3 linked regions of the Homo sapiens genome follow. The protein of the gene in region 2 interacts with the protein of the main gene of each other region in a biochemical or structural test. Each region holds a gene or a part of one and is shown on either strand. Other genes may lie near its edges.

Region 1 (7,030 bases), on a different chromosome or scaffold from region 2:
CCTGCACTTCACAGCTGGACCTCTGGCCACTGGCTGAGAGAACCACTGCTCTCCTGGCCTCCTGCATTGGAACACTTGGCTGTGAAATTAATCTGCAACCTGCAAAAGGCTCTGCCCACAGAAGGGACCTGGACACCATGTATGTTCCAAAGATCCGTGTCCATCCTCCAGGCACAGGCCACAGTCTGACTCTGAGACCAGCTGCCTTCTAGGCTAAAGGAGGGTGCTCTGGGCATTGGCTCAGAACAGGCTGCTGCTGAATGCAGTGGGAAGGGAGAAAGGGATGAAAAGGTCTTCTGAAATGCCCACCCATTTCTTGCATTTGATTCAGAACCCAGTGGGCAGTGGGTTCTTGGAATGGGAATCTTTTTGGTGCCCCCTGTCTTCTGACCCAGAGCGTTAGGAGGGAAGGGAAGGGGTGTTGGGCCCCTTCCCAGGGTCAGGGCTTGTAGCACCTCAGCTGGGAAGCAGTGTGAGCATGATGATATAACAGGAACCAACTCGTTCTTAGCACTTTCTGTGTCTACTTCAATTGTGCTTTACATCTGTTACCTCAAAGTTGCTGCTGTATTCCTCAGCACTTGGAACATGCTGGGCATTCAGGACATTCTTAGTAAATATTTACTGGATTAATTTAACCATCGAGGCTGGGCACGGTGGCTCACACATGTAATCCCAGCACTTTGGGAGGCCGAGGCGGGTGGATCACCCGAGGTCTGGAGTTTGAGACCAGCCTGGCCAACATGGTGAAACCCTGTCTCTACTAAAAATACAAAAATTAGCCAGACGTGGTGGTGCGCACCTGTATCCCAGCTACTCAGGAGGCTGAGGCACTAGAATTGCTTGAATCCAGGAGGCGGAGATTGCAGTGAGCCTAAGCGACAGGGCAAGACTGTCTCAAAAAAAATAAATAAATAAATAAATAAACCGTCACAGCAACCTCAAAATTAGATATATAAACTCTCCCCACTTTTTTTTTTTTTTTTTTTTGAGATGGAGTCTCACTCTGTTGCCCAGGCTGGAGTGCAATGGTATGATCTTGGCTCACCGCAACCTCCGCTTCCCAAGCTCAAGTGATTCTCCTGCCTCAGCCTCCCAAGTAGCTGGGATTACAGGCGTGTGCGCCACCATGCCCAGCTAATTTTTATATTTTTAGTACAGATGGGGTTTCACCGTGTTGGCCAGGCTGGTCTCGAACTACCTGACCTCAAGTGATCCGCCTGCCTCAGACTCCCAAAGTGCTGGGATTACAGGCGTGAGCCACCGCACCCAGCTAAACTCTCCCCATTTTACAGGTGAGAAAGTGCGCAGAGTCAGTTGCCTAAAGTCCCACAGCTCGGAAGTGGCGGAGCTGGGATTTGCACCTGGGTGTTTCTGACTCCAGATCCCCTTGATGAGAGGCTGGATGGGGCCTGGGATGCCCCTGGGGATCCAGTGTAAACCCTGAGAATGTGCCTCAGCTGTGGGGGCCCTCAGCATTCCAGAGGTAGTCATCAGACCCTAGAACCCTATGGGACTGTGCACAGATCGTTCCCTTCTGGGGCCTCAGTTTTCCCATCAGTCAAACGAGGAGGTTGACCCAGATGATGGTAAATCTTTCTTCCAGCCCTAAAACAATTTCAGGATTCCAAGCCATGCCAGCCCAGATTGGCAGCTGCACAAGCCTTGCTGTGTACTCAGGGATCATGCATATTTAATTTCACAATGAAAGGGTTTTTTTCTTACCCTTTTTCTACACATTACAGAAAGAGGTCAGGATCGATGACCACTAATGGAAAACTTTAACCTGCAATAACAATGAGGAACTTTCTGACAATTAGTGTGGCCCCTTAACGTGCTCAGTTTCTTGAGGAGCTCAGAGGGCTCCTACAGTTCCCACATGCCCATTTTCCTGAGATACTGAGCAGGGAGGGTCGGGGAGGAAGGCCCACTAGGGGCTGTGTGTGGATGCTGTAACCCTTTAGGTCTCTTCCAGTGCTGCGTTTTCAAACCTCATATGCTCTAATTTCAAGAGGAAGCAAGGCTTTGGCCCAGATGAGTGATGGGATCCAGAGGTGAGGGGGGGAATGGACACAGGGACCTACCTCTGGTGGGAGTGGGTGTGAAATTCCCATGCTTGTTGCTTCCAGTGTGGAAGCCCACTTCACATCCCTCCTGAGCCCTCAGGCCCAGATCCTCAGGATAAAGTCTTCCTGAACCTCCAAGCCTTAGCCCCAGAGCCCACCCTGCCCCCGCCCCCTACATCCACCAGATGCTTCCTGGGGTAGCCCACCCCCAGCCTGGTGCAGGAGGCTGAAAATCAAAGTGTACTGCTTTAACCGCATTAAAATCCCCTCCTCTCCTCAATTCAGATCAGGGCTATTTGATGTCTCAGGTGCCTGAAACCTTTTATCTGCCAGAGGTACCAGCTTCTCCGCCCTGTGATGGAGAGGGCTGTCCCTTGGGAGGGTCAGGGGGTCTGAAAGTTCCTGAATGTCAGAGATGAAAAGGACTTTTGGGGGTCACCTGATCCAACTGCTTTATTGTATGGATGGGAACTAAGGTCCAGAGAGGGGAAGGGTTGCACCTAAGGTCCGTACAGATCATTGGTGATGACGCTGAGCCTGGGACCTGGGCTCGCCTTTGTTCCACCACAGGTGCTGGGTCTTTACCATCTCTCTGAAGGCCTGGAGAGACCCAGCTCCACCTCTGTGGTTCAGGGCTCAGCCTCCAGGTCTGTCTGGGCTATGGGCTGAAAAGGAGCAAAGCCGTCCCAACAAGAAATGGGAATCTTCCTGGGTGGTTTGCTGGACCCCCGAGCTTTTGGCCATACCACTTCTTCATTCTAATCATAGTTTCCTCTTATAATAAAGTGGGGAGAAGCCAAGGGAGAAGTTTAGTGGCCCCCAGAGGTCCATCCAGCTCTGCCCTTAGCCCCTGAGAGTTCCTACCATGCTTCTTGTGACTGTTTTGCCACATCCTCATTGCTGCTGCTCTGTTACCTTCCCTTCTGAGAAGTGGAAACCCAAGGGCAGTGACACCACCAGCTTCTTCACTTCTGAGGCTGAGCCTCAGTGGTTATAGGGTGGGGCAGGGTTTCCAGTTAGCCTTAGAGGGGTAGGGCTCAGCTTTCTAAACATGTCACAGAAGCCCTGGCCCCTCCTGGCCCAGAGCATTGAAGGTAAAGGTGCAGGTTTGACCTGGTGGACTGTGGGTGGCTCCCATCTCACCTGTATTTGTGTCCTTATCAGTGTCCAACCCAGGGCCTATCTGCTGAATGGATAGTGAAATAATCACTAGATAAATAAATGCATGTAGAGATGCATAAATGGATTGGTGGGTGGGTGGATGGATGGATGGATGGATGGATAAATCGATGGAGACAGACAGATGGCCTCCCCTTTAGTCCAGGGCACAGAGATGGCTTCATGAGTACTCATCCTCCTGAGGGCCCCATGCTTAGAAGGGCCTATGTTTGGTTTAATGCTCTGCAGTCATCATTTTGAAATTGTTAATAATTTTTAACAAAGAGCCCTGCATTTCCATTTTGTGCTTGCCCCACAAATTATGTAGCTTGTCCTGCCAGGGAGTTCAGGCTGAGTTTGGGACGGCTTCATCCCCAACACTGGCCTTGCAGCCTCCACTGTCCCCATCCTAATCCACAGCCTCCCACTAAATGCCAGCCTGCTGGTGTCATCCTCCTGCATGGAGGCCCCCTCCCCACAGTGCCTGGAGTTACAGCATTGCCCTGCCAAGCCAGCAGCTACTACCCGCCATCACTATCAACACCTTGAAAAGTTGGTGGTCCAGAGAAAATCCTCACACAGCACCGCAGACCTTTCCTGAAGTCTCCCTGCCTCCTTCCCTGGCCTCCTGCTGCCTCCTTCCCAGGCCATCACCTACCTGTTTGCTGAAGAGCCCCAGTTTCTAGCCCAACAGATCTCTCCCTGCCATTTCTCCCAGATGCCTTTCATCTCTCACAGAGCCCTGGCCATACCTTTCCCTGGCATCATCTGCCAAAAAACTCAAGAAACCCTGGAGGCCTAGCTCAAGGCCACCTCCCTCAGGAAGCCATACCCGCTCTCCCCACTGGAGTAATCATATACTGTTGTTAGTCACCATTTACTGGGCACCTATGATGTGCCAAGTGCTGTGCGTCATCATCTCTGGCCCTCCCAGAAATGGAAAAGGAGGTCTCCCATGCCATTTCCCAGGAAATTGGGACTCAGATAAGTTAAACTCAGAGAACTGGGGCTTGGACCCAGGAATAAGTGGCTTCCAGCTGGAACCACTGCTCCCAGCCTGGCGGGGCTCCCATCCCTGCCCTGGATGGCATCAGGCGCAGCCTGTTGGCTTCAGAGTGCCATATGTCTGTTCTGCCCTCACCAGCTCATCTCCATCACCTCCCTGGAAGGAAAGAGTCACCATTGCCTATCCATGCCAGTTCCCTAGCCTAGTGAATCCTGTGTTATTAGGAGGCAGCCGAGGGCCCAGGACTGAAGAGCTGACCCTACAGAGCCATTTAATCTCTCATATCGTGTAAGCGTTTACTGAGCACCTACTGTAGGCCTAATTCCATATTAGGAAGTTGAAGAGAGTCCAGATCGTTGTTAGGTAGGTATCCTGATTTGTGGGAAGTCATATTAAAGGACTAAGACAAAAGTTCAGGAAAGAAGTAATTGACAGACAGTGGTGATTAGATGGGTCTGGCCTTAGGTTGGCCACCGAATCGCCGAGTGTGCTAGGATGAGACACTCCTCACTGAGCCTCAGGACACTGAAAAGGGCTGTTGCTACTGATTGTACCAATAATCAGCAGCTACCTCTTCCTGAGGAGCGTCTTTTGGGAGAGGCCTTCTTGCACCGTCTCATTTATCACATGCATCACTTTGCTGAGAAGCCTAGTCCCGTGGAGTCTTGGCTGTGCGCGCAAGGCCGAGTGAGTGAGTGACTTCTTCTCCCTTGAGTGAATGAATAATAATAATGTGGCCACCAACTTTGCAGAGGGCTGTGTGCCAGGCCCTATTCTAAGCATTTTGCTTGTGTTAACTCCTTCAATAGCCCTGACAACCCAGTGATGAGCCCCAATCTACAGATGAGAAAACTGAGGCACAGAGGGGTGGTTAAGTGAATGACCGAAGACAGGGGTGGGAGGACAGATGCTGAGACAGTGAGAGGGTCAGTGAAACATGGGGGTTCTCTGCCCTCCTGCTCTGCCGCCCAGGAGGGCTCTGAGGGGAATCTCAATGTTTGGTAATTGGCACTGATAAGTGAAGGGTTTACTCATTAGCTAGCTACCCCTCCCCTATTTGCAGGCCCTGGGCCTGTGGGGGAAGGCTGTGTGCTGGTGGGTCAGTGTGAATGGCCCAAGGCCTGCCTGTCCCCTGCCCACTTGGCTCTGAGAACCCATTCTATTTGCGGCCCCCACCCCAGCCCATGGCTGCTCCGGGCTGGCAGCAGCCCGGGGAACAGAAGGTTTGCTTGTCTGCGCCTGCCGCACCCCCCTCCTCAGTCTCAGCCTGGGACCCCTCTCAGGGGCTCCTTTGGCTGCCAAGGGCCTGGCACTCCCTGTTGCCATGGCACCGGCCGGAGATGAGGCTCTGGGGGGTGGGGATGGGGAGGGCAGCAGCAGGATGGTGGAGGCCTGGAACTCTGCAGCTACAGAGGCCCTGGCCCTCTGCAAACAGTGGAAGGGGGTGCTGGGGCCCCCACAGGGGCAGGCCTGGACCCTGTGCACAGCAGGCCTGTGGCAGAGCCGGCCACACACCTGGGCTGATTGCCTGGATGCTGTATCCCGCAGGAGCACTGCCCCTGCCAGACCCTGGCTTTCCTAAGCAAAAACTCTCTCCTCAGCCTTGTGTGCTCACCCTCAGCCTCTGCAGCGAAATTGTGGAGTTCTATCCCTAGTCCTGGGTTCTATCCCTAGCTCGACTTTAAAATTATTGGTGACCCGGGGCAGGCCTCCCGCATACACTGCCCCTCAGTCAGAGCAGAGGCGGGACCCAGATCCCTGAGGATCTTCTCATCCCTGAGATCCTGGATTCCGTATGGACGCCATTAGAGGGAGAACGTTTCTCTGTGGACAGATGGACAGAACTGTTTCTGGTCAGGAGACAGACAGTCTGGCATGACGGGCAAGAATTCAGGTTTTGGCAGTTGTGGTGATGCGCACCTGTAGTCCCAGCTACTCAGGAGGCTGAGGCGGGAGGATCACTTGAGCCCAGGAGTTTGAGGCTATAGTGAGCTGTGAGCTATGATCATGCCACCACACCACTGTACTCCAGCGTGGGCAACAGAGCGAGACCCTGTCTCTAAAAAAAAGAAAGAATATAGGCTTTGGAGTCAGGCCGGCCTGAGTTTGCATTCCCGTTCCTTTGCATCTTACTTATTGTGTGACCTTGGGAAAGTTACCAAAAGTCTCTGAGACTCATCATTCTCCTCTGTAAAATGGGAATAATGAGTGTACCCCCCTCACAGGGTGGTCGTGAGGATGAAACAAAATCTCCAGATCATCTCATTTAGCAGAGTGCCTGGCTCTAAATTAGTAGGGACTTTTGTTTGTTTCCAGATTGGGGGGGATCAGAACAATAACTAGAAAGATGTCCTGTATTTGGGGAGAGGGTGGTTGGTGGATAGAAGCAAGACCAATAAGCAGAGAATACAGTGAGATAAACTGTACTCAGTGTAATTAACAATTCTCAATAGTCTGCCCTCTGAAGATTCTAAGCTGGCTAAGAATGAAATGGGCCACAGGTGAGGTGGTGAGAGCCCTGTCATGGGAGGTGTGCAATTGCAGAGAAGGTGGGGGAGATGTGAATAGAGGGAATGTACTAAGACTGTAGGGCTCTGTGAAAAATGGAGTGACTGTTTCCCACTCAAACTGTCAGCTTCAGCTTTACCCAGCTCAAAAGACAGCGTGAAAGAGTGAAAGGAGAAGTTGGGACAAAGAAGGCGAAAAGATAAGGCTGACGACTTTATTTTTTAATTTATTTTTTTGAGACGGAGTTTCACTCTTGTTGCCCAGGCTGGAGTGCAGTGGCGCGATCTCGGGT
Region 2 (7,030 bases):
CTGCCTTTTGGGGCTCCTTTTCTGCCCCAGGGACCATCTTGTTGGCCACTGGGGGCCACTGTTTCTACCCTCAGCCTGTGTTTTAAACTGGGTAGGGTCAGGGCAGCCTGGCCTGTTCCTCTTCTCCAGGATGCTCCAGAGCCACTTGCCCTATCGAGGGGTCACTCTGACAAGCTGCCGCCTCCCCAGCCCCCAGCCTCGTGGCTGAGGAACCCTGGGAAGAGGCATTCCAGGTCTGCGTGTGCGCAGCTCTGTGCCTGTGCTGGGTGTCATCCGTGGCTCTGTCTTTGTCTCTGTTGAAGGCGCCTGCATGCTGGGAAGGCCTGGGAGAGGGCCGGCCTTCTCCACAGGCAGCGCCGTGGTTGGGGAAGCCTAGGAGGCCACTCTGCCAGGCCTGGCGTAGGTGGGGCTGGGAGCATGGGAGTGGAGTTGGGGGTCCAGGAGGCTCCAGGGTGAGCCCACTCCTCCCCCTAGATACAAGGGAGGGCCCTGGGACCCTGTCTGCTGTTCCTCCTGGACTCCTGCTGGGTAGTACTTCCTCCTTCCCCTGCCCTTGCTCCCAGCCAGGAGACCCAGAAAAGTACAGGGGCGGCCTGCTCCACCTCCTGCTAGGTGGCCGACTGGGAGGGGCGGCCTGGCAGGCCTTGGGGACCAGGAGGAACAGCCTGAAGCTGTCTGTCTTATCTTCCTGGAGGCCCTGATGGCATTATCTCCATGTTCTCTCCTACCTTTTTTTTTTTTTTTTTTTCATTTTCAAAGAGAACCCTGGCCGGGTGCGGTGGCTCACGCCTGTAATCCCAACACTTCGGGAGGCTGAGATGGGTGGATCACCTGAGGTCAGGAATTTTGAGACCAGCTTGACTAATGTGGTGAAACCCCCGTCTCTACTAAAAATACAAAAATCAGTTGGGCATGGTGGGGCACGCCTATAGTCCCAGCTACTTGGGAGGCTGAGGCAGGAGAGTCGCTTGAACCCGGCAGGCGGAGGTTTCAGTGAGCCGAGATCCCGCCATAGCACTCCAGCCTAGGCGACAGAGTGAGACTGTCTCAAAAAAAAACAAAAAAAGGAAAAGAAAGAAATCCCTTCAGGGGATATGAGTCCAGGGGTTGGCCAGACCCCACTGTGAGAACCGCGCTTGGGGCAGGGGTGTGGGATCTGGAGTTCTGAGGGTGCAGGGGATATACACATTCACTTTCTCCCTTTCCCAGACGTCACTGCTGAAGCTGGCTGCCCCTAGGAGCTGAGCCCGGGGGGAGCGGCTTGGCAGGGAGACAGCATTCCCTGTGGGGAGCCCAGCCTGGGCGCAGGCCTGCCCGTGGGACCTGTGGGACCCGTTTTGTTCCTGGGGCTTGAGGGCGGGCCACAGTGGTGCTCAGGGCCAAGGTGCCCAGCCCAGGGCTGGTGGGGGGGCTGGCCTTGCAGGGGGGCTGGCTGGTCCTAAGCCCCTGTCTCCAGGCTGAGGGTTGGGGCCTCCCTCTTTCCCAGCCACCTTCCCTCCCCCAGGAGGAAGCTCCCCCTCTGCCTCAGGCGTTTGTCCATTGATTTGGACACAAACGCATGGTTCACCTTCCTGTGGAAAAATCCGGCCCTCGGACTTTATCTGGAGGGTGCAGTGGCCCAGGCACCTTGCCTTGGGTGGGACCTTCCCCCTCTGCTATTTCAGGCTCTGGGGGCTGCAGGAAGCCCTAGGAGGGGCTTCCTCTGGGTGTATTTTTAGAGGAACAAAGGGTGGCCTGAGTGGCAGGTCCCTTTGTGCATGAGTCTGGCTGGGGACAGGGGCTCCAGGAGGTCAGGGGGCACCCAAGGAACAGGGTCTCCCCTTCTCTCTTCTGGCATCAAGACCTGAGGTTTCTTTTTCTTTTTCTTTCTTGGCTCACTACAACCTCCGCTGTCTGGGTTCAAGCGATTCTCTTGCCTCACCCTCCCCAGTAGCTGGGATTACAGGCGCGCACCACCACACCTGACTAATTTTTGTGTTTTTAGTAGAGACGGGGTTTCACCATGTTGCTCAAGCTGGTCTCGAACTCCTGATCTCAGGTGATCTGCCCTCCTCGACCTCCCAAAGTTCTGGGATTACAGGTGTGAGCCACTGTACCCGGCCCCTGAGGTCTGAGGTTTCATTTCTTTCTTTCTTTTTTTTTTTTTTTGAGACGGAGTTTCACTCTGTCGCCCAGGCTGGAGTGCTGTGGTGCGATCTCGGCTCACTGCAAGCTCCGCCTCCTGGGTTCAAGCAATTCTTATGTCTCAGCCTGCTGAGTAGCTGGGATTACAGGCGTGTACCACCACACCTGGCTAATTTTTGTGTTTTTGGTAGAGACAGGGTTTCACCGTGTTGGCCAGGCTGGTCTCAAACTCTTGGGCTCAAGTGATCCGCCTGCCTCAGCCTCCCAAAGTGCTGGGATTACAGGTGTGAGCCCCTGCGCCTGGCTCAGGACCTGAGGTTTCTTCACCTGAGCTCCCAGCATGGGCAGGAAGAGGTGGGCCTCACCTGACCTCCACAGAGCAGGCTCAGATCCTGCCCTTCTCAGCCTGGGTTCAGGGCATGCCTCAGATGGTCAGGGAGCCCAGGAGGGCAAAGCTTACCTTGCGGGGATGGCTCCAGTGGGGGCACTGGTGGCAGAGAGGCAGAGCTCTGGAAGGGATGTGTGTAGTTTGTCTTTGGTGAAGGATGGAGAGGGCCCAACTTTGGGTGCCCCCTGGGAGCTAAGGGTGGCTCTCAGTGTCCTCTGTCCTGGCTGGGGATAGGGGAGGTGGGCAGGGGAGGACACTGATGTGGTTGGCCCCTCCTTTTGGGGGCCGTGAAGGCCTAGTTAGTGATGACTCAGCCCTGGGCCACACCAGGCTGGGGGTGGCCGCAGCTGCAGTGCAGCTGATCCTAGTAGTGACGACAGGGGACAGCCCCCAAACAGAGACGGGGTGGCCAGCGGTGCCAGGCCCTGGAGGTGGTGGCAGACCCTGAGCCCTCTGCCCCCTGCCCCTAGCCCATGTCTCCACCCCCATCTGGAGGGCCTTGGGGGCTAAGAGCAGGTGTGAGGGGTGACAGTTCTGCGGGAGGCGGCTGTGTGGTTGGGGCGCGGTGCCTGCGGGGGCTTCCGGGCTTCCCTGGCTCTTGCTCCTCTGGAGCCTCAACAGGACCGTCCTGTGTTCTGGGGCCGGGACTCCTCCCTGTCCCCTCAGCCCTGGGTCCTGGGGCAGGGCAGGGCCTTCCAGCAGCTTCCTTCCTTCCTTTCTTGGGACGGAAGCCTAGCTGGGTGGGGGGCGCCAGGCTGGAGCCTTCGCAGGGGAGCGGGCTCAGTCATCACCCTGCTCCCCAGAGTGACTCAGCCCCCACGTCCCCACCCATCCCCGGGGAGCCAGGGCCGCAGAGGGAGGTAGATAAGTGGGGTGGCAGCCTGGGTCGGCCAGAGAGTTCAGGCCACCCCGGCCGGACGCCTGCCACTTGCTGTCACTGTGCCGCTGTCATGGCACGCTCCGGGAGTGCCACGCCACCTGCCCGGGCTCCGGGAGCCCCTCCACGGAGCCCACCCCAGAGGCTGGTACAGGTCAGGTGGGGTGGGAGGAAGGGAGGGCTAGGAGGAACCGGCAGCCGCTCAGCCTCCCGGGGTGGAAGGAGGGGACTCCGGGACCTTGATGTAAGCAGGCTGGTCGCTGAGCAACAATGAAGGCCTTTCTCTGCCAGGGCTGGTGCGTCACCATCTGGGGGGGTGCCCAGGGTACCCCCATGCCAGCCTCTTTGTCCGGACACAGGCATGGCTGGGGGACCAGGGATGGTCCAGCTCTGTGCTGGCCGCCGGCAGGGAGGGAGCCTGGAGCCCGTGGGAGCCCGAGGGCCTGGCGGGAGGCGGCAGGAAGTGTGTGCTGAGCCAGGGCAGGGAGGAGGAATGTGAGCTATGAACGCCGCCCGAGCTCCTCGGCTCTCTGGGCCCCCCTTCCCCACGAGCCCATGTGCTGCCAGCAGCCCACCCTGGCCCCTCCATTGCAGCCCCTCCACCTGAGGTTTTAGTGCTGTGCCTGGCGCCACTGGGACCCTGCTGACAATGAAGGGGTTTAGGTTTGATAGGCAGAACTTCTTGCCTTGTAGAGTGAAAGACGGCTGCTTCTGGACAGAGGCAGAGGGGTGGCCAGAATGACCCTGAGAACACTGAGGGGTCCTTGGCCTGGCCTCAGGGCCCCAGACACCCACCAGATCCTGCTTCCTGTCTGGTGCCCTGAGAAACCCTGCCCCGCAGGCCGCTGTGCAGGCGTGGGAAGGGCTGCCGGGCCAGCACTGTGGGGCTGGCCGCATGTGTGGGCTGCTGTGCGTGTTTGCAGGTGTGTGTGGACGTCTTGTGTCTGTGGCTGTGTGATGTGTCTTTGCGGACTGGGCCCATATCACGCTCCCACCTCCTCCACTGAATTGGGCTCCTGTCCCCACGCCTTCCCTGCGTCCCAGGCCAGCCTGGGGGCCGTGCTCCACCTCCCCTCCCGAACTGGACTCCTGTCCCCACGCCTTCCCTCCGTCCCAGGCCAGCCTGGGGGCCGTGCTCCACCTCCCCTCCCGAACTGGACTCCTGTCCCCACGCCTTCCCTCCGTCCCAGGCCAGCCTGGGGGCCGTGCTCCACCTCCCCTCCCGAACTGGACTCCTGTCCCCACGCCTTCCCTCCGTCCCAGGCCAGCCTGGGGGCCGTGCTCCACCTCCCCTCCCGAACTGGGCTCCTGTCCCCACGCCTTCCCTCCGTCCCAGGCCAGCCTGGGGGCCGTGCTCCACCTCCCCTCCCGAACTGGACTCCTGTCCCCACGCCTTCCCTCCGTCCCAGGCCAGCCTGGGGGCCGTGCTCCACCTCCCCTCCCGAACTGGGCTCCTGTCCCCACGCCTTCCCTCCGTCCCAGGCCAGCCTGGGGGCTGTGCTCCACTTCCCCTCCCGAACTGGACTCCTGTCCCCACGCCTTCCCTGCGTCCCAGGCCAGCCTGGGGGCCGTGCTGTGACTGCATCCCTGAGGGGCACTTTGGTGGGCAGGTGTCAGGGTCAGCCTTGAAGCCCCACGCCTGTGCCACCAGGTGTGTCTGGGGGAGGAGTGAGTCTATGTGGTGGGGCCCTGGAGATTTTGGGGGTCTTGCACCCTCTAATTCAGCCCATGTGGCCCAGCTGAGCCCCTGTGGGGCCAGGGAGCCACAGGCTTGTCCCTGGAGTTTCTGGTGTGACGGGCTGGGTGGTGGCCATGCAGAGAGGGTTCAGAGGGTGGGCAGGAGGCTTCAGATGAGGCATCTGGCAGGCTGGACAGGAGAAGGGTGTTCCAGACCAAGGGCAGGTCCTGAGCCCAGGGGACAGAGCACTAGCTGTGTGGAGAAGGACCCCCTTGCTCCCTTGGCGGGGCGGTCCCCCCCGCTGACATGGCCGTTTCTGGTCCATTGGGGTTTGGAGCGAGCTTGAAGGTGGGTGGCTGGAGGGGTTGGGGGTGTCTGAGGCCTGGAGACCTGCCCTCCTGAGGTCTGAGCGCCCCCTTGCCATGCCGCCCCAGCCCTGGCCTGGCCTGGCCTGTGGTCCCTCAGGGACACACAGGGAGGTAGGAGGTGAGGGAAGGGCCCTGGCAGCCCCCAGCCCGCCTGCACAGTCTCCCCTGCGCACGCCCTCAAGCTTGGCGCTCCCTGGAAACCTGAGCTGCCTCCTGCCTGCTCCGGCCACCGCCATGTTTAACTGAGCACGGGCAGCCGCTGGCCACCGCCGCCGCACCCTGGCCCACCCCCTGGCTGGGAGGTGGTCATTGGGCCTGGCCTTGCCTGCATGGTCCCCTGGCCCAGAGCCCTACCGCAGGATGCCAGAGGTAACATGGGGCAGGGCCTGGGATGGTAGCGGGGGGTCCTTCCGGGCACCAGGAGGCCCTCTGTGCCCTGTCCACACTAAGCTCCTGCCCCAGCCCCTGCTTGCTGGGCCCACGGGGGTGGGGCGGCTCATTTTCCTGGAATGTGAAAGCAAACAGAGCCGCCACCGCAGCCAGCCCCACGGAGGCCTCTGGAGAGAAAACAAAACTGCTGGCCTAGGAGCGCCTGCCCCACGCTCTGGAGGAGAGCCCGGGGCAGGGGGACGCACAGGCAGAGCCCTCAGGGACAACCGCCCCAGGAGGCCAACGGCGACAGTTCATCCCACCTGGTGCTTCCTCCCACCCTGCCTGTGCGCCACGCTGGCCTCGAGCCAAAGGAATTCTCCCAGCAACCCGGGAAGGCGGCTGGGCCCGTCGGGGAGGCTTCTGGGTTTGAAAACAGGCTTTGCCCAAGTTCCCACAGCTAAAGCTCTGTCACAGGCAGCCTGGGTGCCCGGAGTGTTTGCCACTGAGACCTGGGCCTGCCCGTGGGGGGCACGGTACCGAGTTTGGGCAGTGGCGGCACCACCGGGGAGTGGCCTCTGGAGGCGGGAGGCTGGAGCAAGAGACTGACCCTGTCCGTTGGGCCTGCAGGATGTCAGTGGGCCCCTGAGGGAGCTGCGCCCTCGGCTCTGCCACCTGCGAAAGGGACCTCAGGGCTATGGGTTCAACCTGCATAGTGACAAGTCCCGGCCCGGCCAGTACATCCGCTCTGTGGACCCGGGCTCACCTGCCGCCCGCTCTGGCCTCCGCGCCCAGGACCGGCTCATTGAGGTACCGGCCCACCAGGGCTGCGGGGTGCCGAGTGCCCCGCACCTGTCCACACTGGGGCCCTGGGTCCTTGCAGGGAGGAGGGAGACGCTGGGAACCTGAGCTGGTGCGCCTCCTGCTGCCTCGGTGGGCGGTGGCTGTGATGAATATTTGATGCCACACCTGGCCACGCGGCGTTGGGGGCTGTCTGGGCCCATGGCGGGGCTGATACATGCTGGTGGCGGCAGGTGAACGGGCAGAATGTGGAGGGACTGCGCCATGCTGAGGTGGTGGCCAGCATCAAGGCACGGGAGGACGAGGCCCGGCTGCTGGTCGTGGACCCCGAGACAGATGAACACTTCAAGCGGCTTCGGGTCACACCCACCGAGGAGCACGTGGAAGGTGGGCCACGGCCCAGGGCACAGGGTGGGTGCGGTGTG
Region 3 (7,030 bases), on a different chromosome or scaffold from region 2:
TTCTGGGGTTACTGTGATGTCCATCATTTCCCAAGCCCTTTGCTAAATATTCCTGTCCTTCTCTATAAGCCTGGGGTTGAATACTATTATCAGCCCCATTTTACAAGTGAGGAAACTGAGGGCTACAGATGTTAAATGTCGTGCCCAAAACCACACAGCTGTGAGTGGATAGTAAAGCCAGGATTCACACCCTGGCCTGCCCGACTCCTTCCTGTGACTGGAATCCCAACTCTCCTGGAGGTCACGGCCTATTGCTCCAGTGCCTGCATTTGGCCTACACATATATTTTGTTTGGCCTGCAAGATAAGGGGTGTTTTTTGATTTGAGGTATGGTTTAGTAAGGTTTGGTAATTTGGCTGCTTTTAAAAACACTGGGTCCGAGTTGCTATGTAGTGACTGTCAGCTGGAGCCAGGTAGCTGCTGTCCTCTGTGGACTGCTTGGAGGTTCCCACTCTGCCTGGCTTCACTCATTACTTGCCCAGCCTGTTGTGATTTTCCATGCGGTGAGATGTGAGACTATACTTTTCCTCCCCCAACATACACTCCTGAGGGTCAGGTATCAGAATCACCTGTGGGGCTTTTTAAAGCTGTACTTCCCCTCCCCCACTCACCATCCCTACTATTCTGCCACTGGCAGTGGTGAGACAGTTTCCTATAGGAATTTGTAGTTTCTCTATGTTGTATTAGGGTAGGAAAAAAGATCAACAACTTGAGCCGGGCGTGGTGGCTCACGCCTGTAATCCCAGCACTTTGGGAGGCTGAGGCAGGTGGATTGCCTGAGGTCAGCAGTTCGAGACCAGCCTGGCCAACATGATGAAACCCCATCTCTATTAAAAATACAAAGAATTAGCTGGGCATGGTAGCAGATGCCTGTAATACCAGCTCCTTGGGAGGCTGAGGCAGGAGAATTGCTTGAGCCTGGGAGGCAGAGGTTGCACTGAGCCGAGATCACGCCATTGCACTCCAGCCTGGGCAACAAAAGCAAAACTCCATCTCAGAAAAATAAATTAATTTAAAAAAAAGGTCAACTTCCATATCCCTGTGTCCCAGTAGTGTCATGTGTGCCACACTAAACTGGAAAGACTATGGAATTCAGGTCAGAACTGGGTTCTGGTCTTGCCTCTGCCTCTAACCTACATGCAAGTGAGTTGTCCTCTCAGGCTGGGCGTAGTGGCTCACACCTGTAATCCCAGCACTTTGGGAGGCCAAGGTGGGAAGATCACTTGAGGCCAGAGTTTAAAACCAGCCTAGCCAACAGGGTGAAACCCTGTTTCTATAATACAAAAATTAGCCAGGCATGGTGGTGCACACCTGTAATTCCAGCTAACTGGGAAGCTGAGATATGAGAATTGCTTGAACCTGGGAGACGGAGGTTGCAGTGATCCAAGATTGTGCTGCTGGCGAGACTCCATCTCAAAAAAAAAAAAAAGAAAATTGTCCTCTCAGAGCTTTGGTTTTCTCCTCTGTAAAATGGAGCTAATAATTCCTGTCCACCCGCCGAGGTGCAGTGGATGGCTCCAGTGAGATCACGACTGGTAACATTCTTTGTAAACTGGAAGTTCACTTGTGCAGGGTAGTTGGTGTCCTCAGCCAAGCTGAGCATCCCTGACCTCTAGGTAGAGTCCACATTCCTGGGGGCCTGGCCTTGTGCTGTGGGCATACGATTGTGTTTGAAGGAGGGAGCCCACGGGACTTTCTCCAAGGCTTGGATACAGTGTGTTGCTGGGGCTACCCTAACAGTGTGGCCCTTTCCCCCTCATCTACCTGGCACTCTTCTCCCTATGGAGGTGGACTGTGCTGGGCCATGTCTACCTACTCCACGGGCTCCACGGGCATTGCTGGAGGGCTTGGAGATCAACTGAGACTATGAAAAGACTATCTGAATAAAACCAACTAACCTGCAAAACTCTACTAATCTAACCTGCAAGGTATCTGTCTCTGTGTTTCAGAGGTGTGATTTGTTCATTCATTGCACAAAGTTCACTTAGCATTTGCTCTGTGCTAGGCCCTGCACTGGGTGCTGAAGGTGAACGGGCATTCCACAGACATAGGGTTATGATCGTTACCGAAGGAGCCCCTGGTGGCCTGAGCTCAGGGCACCTGAGGGATGCAATGGACAGTGAGGCTGGAACAGATGATGGCTGTGCCTCCCATGTTAGGGTAGGGACTTTGGGCTTTATCTTGCAGGTAGGGAGCCTTTGAAGGTTTTTTGACAATGCCCAGGGAGGTTCCATTAGCTTAGGGGAGGAGGAGCAGGAAGATGAGAACATGAGGAGTTTAGTGTGGGATGTGTTGAGTTTGAGGCTCTGTGGAACATCCAGTGGTTGCCTTGTGGTAGGCAGTTGGATTTATGAGCCAAGACTCAGGAAAAGTTCTGGACTAGGGTTAGAGATCTGAGAGGTATTGGTAGTTGATAGTTAGAGGATTGACTATGAATGGAACTGTACAGGCCAGGCACAGTTACTCACACCTTTAATCCCAGCACTTTGAGAGGCCCAGGCAGGAGGATCACTTGAGCCCAGGGGTTCAAGAGCAGCCTGGGCAACATAGCGAGACCCTGTCTCTGCAAAAAATGTTTTAAAAATTAGCTGGGTATGGTGGCACATGCCTCTAGTCCCAGCTGCTTGCGAGGTCGAGGTGGGAGGATCACTTGAGCTCAGAGATTGAGGCTGCAGTGAGCCATGAATCATGCTGCTGTACTCCAGCCTGGGCAACACAGACCCTGTCTCAAAACAAAACAAAACAAAAAAGCCTTACAGAGTGTGGGGAGGAGAAGAATGAAATGTGGGGTGGTTCAGCCCCCTCAAGTTACAGATGAGCAAACAGGGCCCAGAGGAAAGCCGTTTGCTTATGGCCTCAGCAGTAAGTGTCATTCATCCATTCATTCAACAGATATTTATTGAATACCTGCCATGTACTAGGAGCTAGTTTAAGTGCTGGGATACAGCAGTGAGCAAAACACTCAGGGAGCTTACATGCCGGTGGGCAGACTCAGAAAACAAATTAAATATTATGTTAAGTAGTGGGAAGTGCTACAGATAAAAGTAAAGCAGTGTATTCTTTGATTTTAAAGATAAGGAAAATAGGGCCAGGCGTGGTGGCTCACGCCTGTAATCCCAGCACTTTGGGAGGCCGAGGCAGGCAGATCACTTGAGGTCAGGAGTTTGAGACCAGCCTGACCAACATGGTGAAACCCCATCTCTACTAAAAATACAAAAATCAGCCAGCCATGGCGGCGGGTGCCTGTAATCCCAGCTACTTGGGAGCTGAGGCAGGAGAATTGCTTGAACCCGGGAGGCGGAGGCTGCAGTGATCTGAGGTCGTGCCACTGCACTCCAGCCTGGGTGACAGAGGAAGACTCCATCTCAAAAAAAAAAGACTTTTAAGATTTTGACCTAAGTAACAGGAAGGATGGAGTTGCCACAAGGTAAGATTATGTGATGAGTAGGTTTTAGGGGAGAATTGAGAGTTCAGTTTTGACAGGTTAACTTAGAGCTACCTGTAGACACCTACACAGAGTCAGTAGCAGCAGCAATAAGACCATCATTTCAGCCCCTTCCCCTTCTCTCGGATGCCAAGTCCATGCACCCGTCCCTCTGCACCCTGTCTGTGTAGCTTTCTAATCTCTGGCCGCTGACCTGGGCCACTAGCCACCTCCCCACACTGAGAACTGACCCCAGCCCCCTGCCCCTAGGTTGTGCACAGGGACCTGAAGCCCAGCAACATCCTGTATGTGGACGAGTCCGGGAATCCCGAGTGCCTGCGCATCTGTGACTTTGGTTTTGCCAAACAGCTGCGGGCTGAGAATGGGCTCCTCATGACACCTTGCTACACAGCCAACTTTGTGGCGCCTGAGGTGAGTGGCCCAGCCTCCTCAGCTGTAAGAGTGAGGGGGAATTGGAGGCCTTGTGCCCCCTCCCAGAGGCCCCACATTAGCCGGGACTCCAGTCTCTGTGACCTTGGCCCAGCTGGCAAGGGAAGATCTAGCCTGTGCCTGGGACCCTTGTCCTGCCCTTGAGGGGAGTAGCAGGAAACATCTGTGGCGACTTTCTACTGCCCCCCCAGACTGACCACCTCCCCTGCCCTGTTGCCAGGTGCTGAAGCGCCAGGGCTACGATGAAGGCTGCGACATCTGGAGCCTGGGCATTCTGCTGTACACCATGCTGGCAGGGTGAGTGCCCCTGGCCTGGACCCTTCCCCACTCCTGCAGCCCTAGCACTTGGGCTGAGTGGTGCTTGTCTGATAGGAATGGCTCAGCCAGCCCCGCCCCAGGATGGTCTGGAAATAGGGACATGCTCCTGCCTCCAGGAGCTCTACCTTGGGAGTACCCCATCTGAGGGGGAGACACAGTCTCCCACCGCAGCCCCAGCCCCAGTATGGAGGCCAGAGTCTGTACCCAGACCGTGCGGGCTTTTCTGCAGATATACTCCATTTGCCAACGGTCCCAGTGACACACCAGAGGAAATCCTAACCCGGATCGGCAGTGGGAAGTTTACCCTCAGTGGGGGAAATTGGAACACAGTTTCAGAGACAGCCAAGGTGAGTCTGTACGGCCTGCGTGGGCTTATTTGGAGGAGGGAGGCAGGGTCCCATCCTAGGGCTTTTCAGCAGTTCATGAACAGCCTCATTTCTCCAAGCGGATGTTCCACAAATCCCTGTTGCTGTATTTCTCCAAGCGGAAGATTCCCAGGCAGACCACCACCACCTCCGTACCTTGTTGGGGTAACCTGGTGATCATTCATTGGCCCTTCTCATTCTGGACCCTGTGGGGCACTGAGGGCTGCATCATCACAGTCCCGGCTTTGTGGAAACGTAGTGTAGTGAGGGATACAGGTTTGCACACAAGGGGCAGAGATGCCTGGAGGCACAGATAGGCGGACGCTCTTGGCCAGGGGTGTGGACCGTGGAGACACAGAGCAGAGCAACTGGCCATGCCAAGCAGAGCCTCCTCGGAGGAAGTAGCATGTGAGCTTTCAGTATTAGCAACAGTTTTTGGTCATTGGGAACCTGTATGCCAGACAGAGTTGAACCCTCTATGTACGGCCGGCCACCTCACATCAACCTGTGAGGCAGGGAGTGGTTATTCCTATTTCTCAGCAGGGAAACTGAGGCTCAGAGAGTTGAAGGAACTTGCCCAGGGCACTCATTTGATGAGTGCAGAAGGCAAGTTTTGAACCTGAATCTGTCTGAGCCCAAACCTGAGGCTTTTCCCACCTTCCCACATGGCTTTTTGAAGGCAAAGGAGAAATGGAAGGGTGTTCCAGGACGAAGGGCCTAGAGCAGCAAAGGCCCAGCGACAGGAACCTTGGCTGTGTGCGGGGAGCCCTGGAGCAGAGTGGAGAATGGATCCCAGGGGCTGCCGCAAGGGTTCAGGCGGGAGCTAGCAGGAGATGGTTGCCCTCCTGTGCCCCATCAGGGGCCTGCTCCCCTGCAGCCCTCCCCCAACCCCCTTGCCCACTGTGTCCCCAGGACCTGGTGTCCAAGATGCTACACGTGGATCCCCACCAGCGCCTCACAGCTAAGCAGGTTCTGCAGCATCCATGGGTCACCCAGAAAGACAAGCTTCCCCAAAGCCAGCTGTCCCACCAGGACCTACAGCTTGTGAAGGTATGGCCACCCTTGGGCTGCTGGGCATCTGGGGGGTCAGCCCAAGGTGGCATGGTCAGGGACTTGTGGAAGAGCCAGGCAATGCCATGTCTGTACCAAGCACCATGAGGTGGAACATAGGAGAAGAAGACACAGCCCTGCCGTCAGGGAGCCTAACATGCTACAGTGTCACGGTGCACTCACAGCCCCCAATCCTCTGGAAGGCACAGCTGCTGACCTCTGAACCCTCCAGTCTGATGGGGGAGGCAGGACCCATGACCATAAAGGACCACTGAGGCTGGATTAACAGTGGGCTAGGCTGGGCGCGGTGGCTCACACCTGTAATCCCAGCACTTTGGGAGGCTGAGGTGGGTGGATCACGAGGTCAGGAGTTCAAGACCAGCCTGACCAAGATGGTGAAACCCCATCTCTACTAAAAATACAAAAATTAGCCAGGTGTGGTGGCAAGCGCCTGTAATCCCAGCCATTTGGGAGGCTGAGACAGGAGAATCGCTTGAACCCTGGGGGCAGAGGTTGCAGTGAGCCAAGATTGTGCCATTGCGTTCCAGCCTGGGTGACAGAGTGAGACTGTATCTCAAAAAAAAAAAAACAACAAAAACAAAACCAAAAAAAGTGGGCTGTGGAACACTGAGAGGGGCTGGCCTACCCTTGGGGCATGGATCCCCTCCCCGCTACATCTCCCACCATTGTGACCTGACCTCCCCACTTCTCTTTCAGGGAGCCATGGCTGCCACGTACTCCGCACTCAACAGCTCCAAGCCCACCCCCCAGCTGAAGCCCATCGAGTCATCCATCCTGGCCCAGCGGCGAGTGAGGAAGTTGCCATCCACCACCCTGTGAGGCACCAGGGCATTCGGGCCACAGGGCGGTGCTAGCTTGACACAGTCAGCATGCTTCCCAGAGGGAGCAGGCCGGAACCACAGGGCCAGAGGGAGCTGGAACCCGAGGGGCCGGGGAAGCTGCCAGCCCAGAACACCCCTAATGAGGGTGTGAGAAGTGCCTTCTCCTTCCCCAGGATGGACTCTTCTCGGCTCAGGCTCTGCTGGTGGAAAGCGATTCACTGTATAAACTTTTTTTTATGAAAAAAATGGCATCAACCACCATGGATTTTTACAAGATCCATTTGCCTTTCTGGGAGCAGAAACAGCCATTGCGGCCCCAGGAGGGGAACTGAGTCACGCTGGGGCTCTCTGAGACTCTTTAGAGCAGCTTTGGGATCCCACCCTGGGGACCCCCACGATTGGCCACCTGTAGCCATCTGCACACACCTCCGAGACAGTCCAGTGTCACCTCTCTCAGAGCATCTGGCTGTTTAGCAGAACTCATTCTATCCCCAATCAGCTCCTTTTCCGTTCTGTTCTGCTGGGAGTTCTAGAACCACTTCCTGCTACAGGAGGGGTCTCATGTCCTGCTGGCTTCCAGC

Evidence for each region.
Region 1: the proteins of NHERF2 (region 2) and PDGFRB form a complex in vitro, tested with the Homo sapiens proteins (2 studies listed by BioGRID and IntAct, with this or other methods).
Region 3: the proteins of NHERF2 (region 2) and RPS6KA1 interact in a test that uses a peptide from one of them, tested with the Homo sapiens proteins (2 studies listed by BioGRID and IntAct).

What each region holds. Positions count from the first base shown.
Region 1 is NC_000005.10:150,145,822-150,152,851, reverse strand, and holds part of PDGFRB (platelet-derived growth factor receptor beta isoform 1 precursor), read left to right. Parts: exon of another isoform or gene 1-513; intron 514-7,030. UniProt on the Homo sapiens protein: Tyrosine-protein kinase that acts as a cell-surface receptor for homodimeric PDGFB and PDGFD and for heterodimers formed by PDGFA and PDGFB, and plays an essential role in the regulation of embryonic development, cell proliferation, survival, differentiation, chemotaxis and migration.
Region 2 is NC_000016.10:2,029,890-2,036,919, forward strand, and holds part of NHERF2 (Na(+)/H(+) exchange regulatory cofactor NHE-RF2), read left to right. Parts: intron 1-3,404; exon of another isoform or gene 3,405-3,462; coding exon of another isoform or gene 3,463-3,543; intron 3,544-3,699; exon of another isoform or gene 3,700-5,795; coding exon of another isoform or gene 5,796-5,804; intron 5,805-6,434; coding exon 6,435-6,614; intron 6,615-6,838; coding exon 6,839-6,992; intron 6,993-7,030.
Region 3 is NC_000001.11:26,567,755-26,574,784, forward strand, and holds part of RPS6KA1 (ribosomal protein S6 kinase alpha-1), read left to right. Parts: intron 1-3,694; coding exon 3,695-3,856; intron 3,857-4,094; coding exon 4,095-4,171; intron 4,172-4,421; coding exon 4,422-4,539; intron 4,540-5,469; coding exon 5,470-5,607; intron 5,608-6,324; coding exon 6,325-6,447; 3' UTR 6,448-7,030. UniProt on the Homo sapiens protein: Serine/threonine-protein kinase that acts downstream of ERK (MAPK1/ERK2 and MAPK3/ERK1) signaling and mediates mitogenic and stress-induced activation of the transcription factors CREB1, ETV1/ER81 and NR4A1/NUR77, regulates translation through RPS6 and EIF4B phosphorylation, and mediates cellular proliferation, survival, and differentiation by modulating mTOR signaling and repressing pro-apoptotic function of BAD and DAPK1.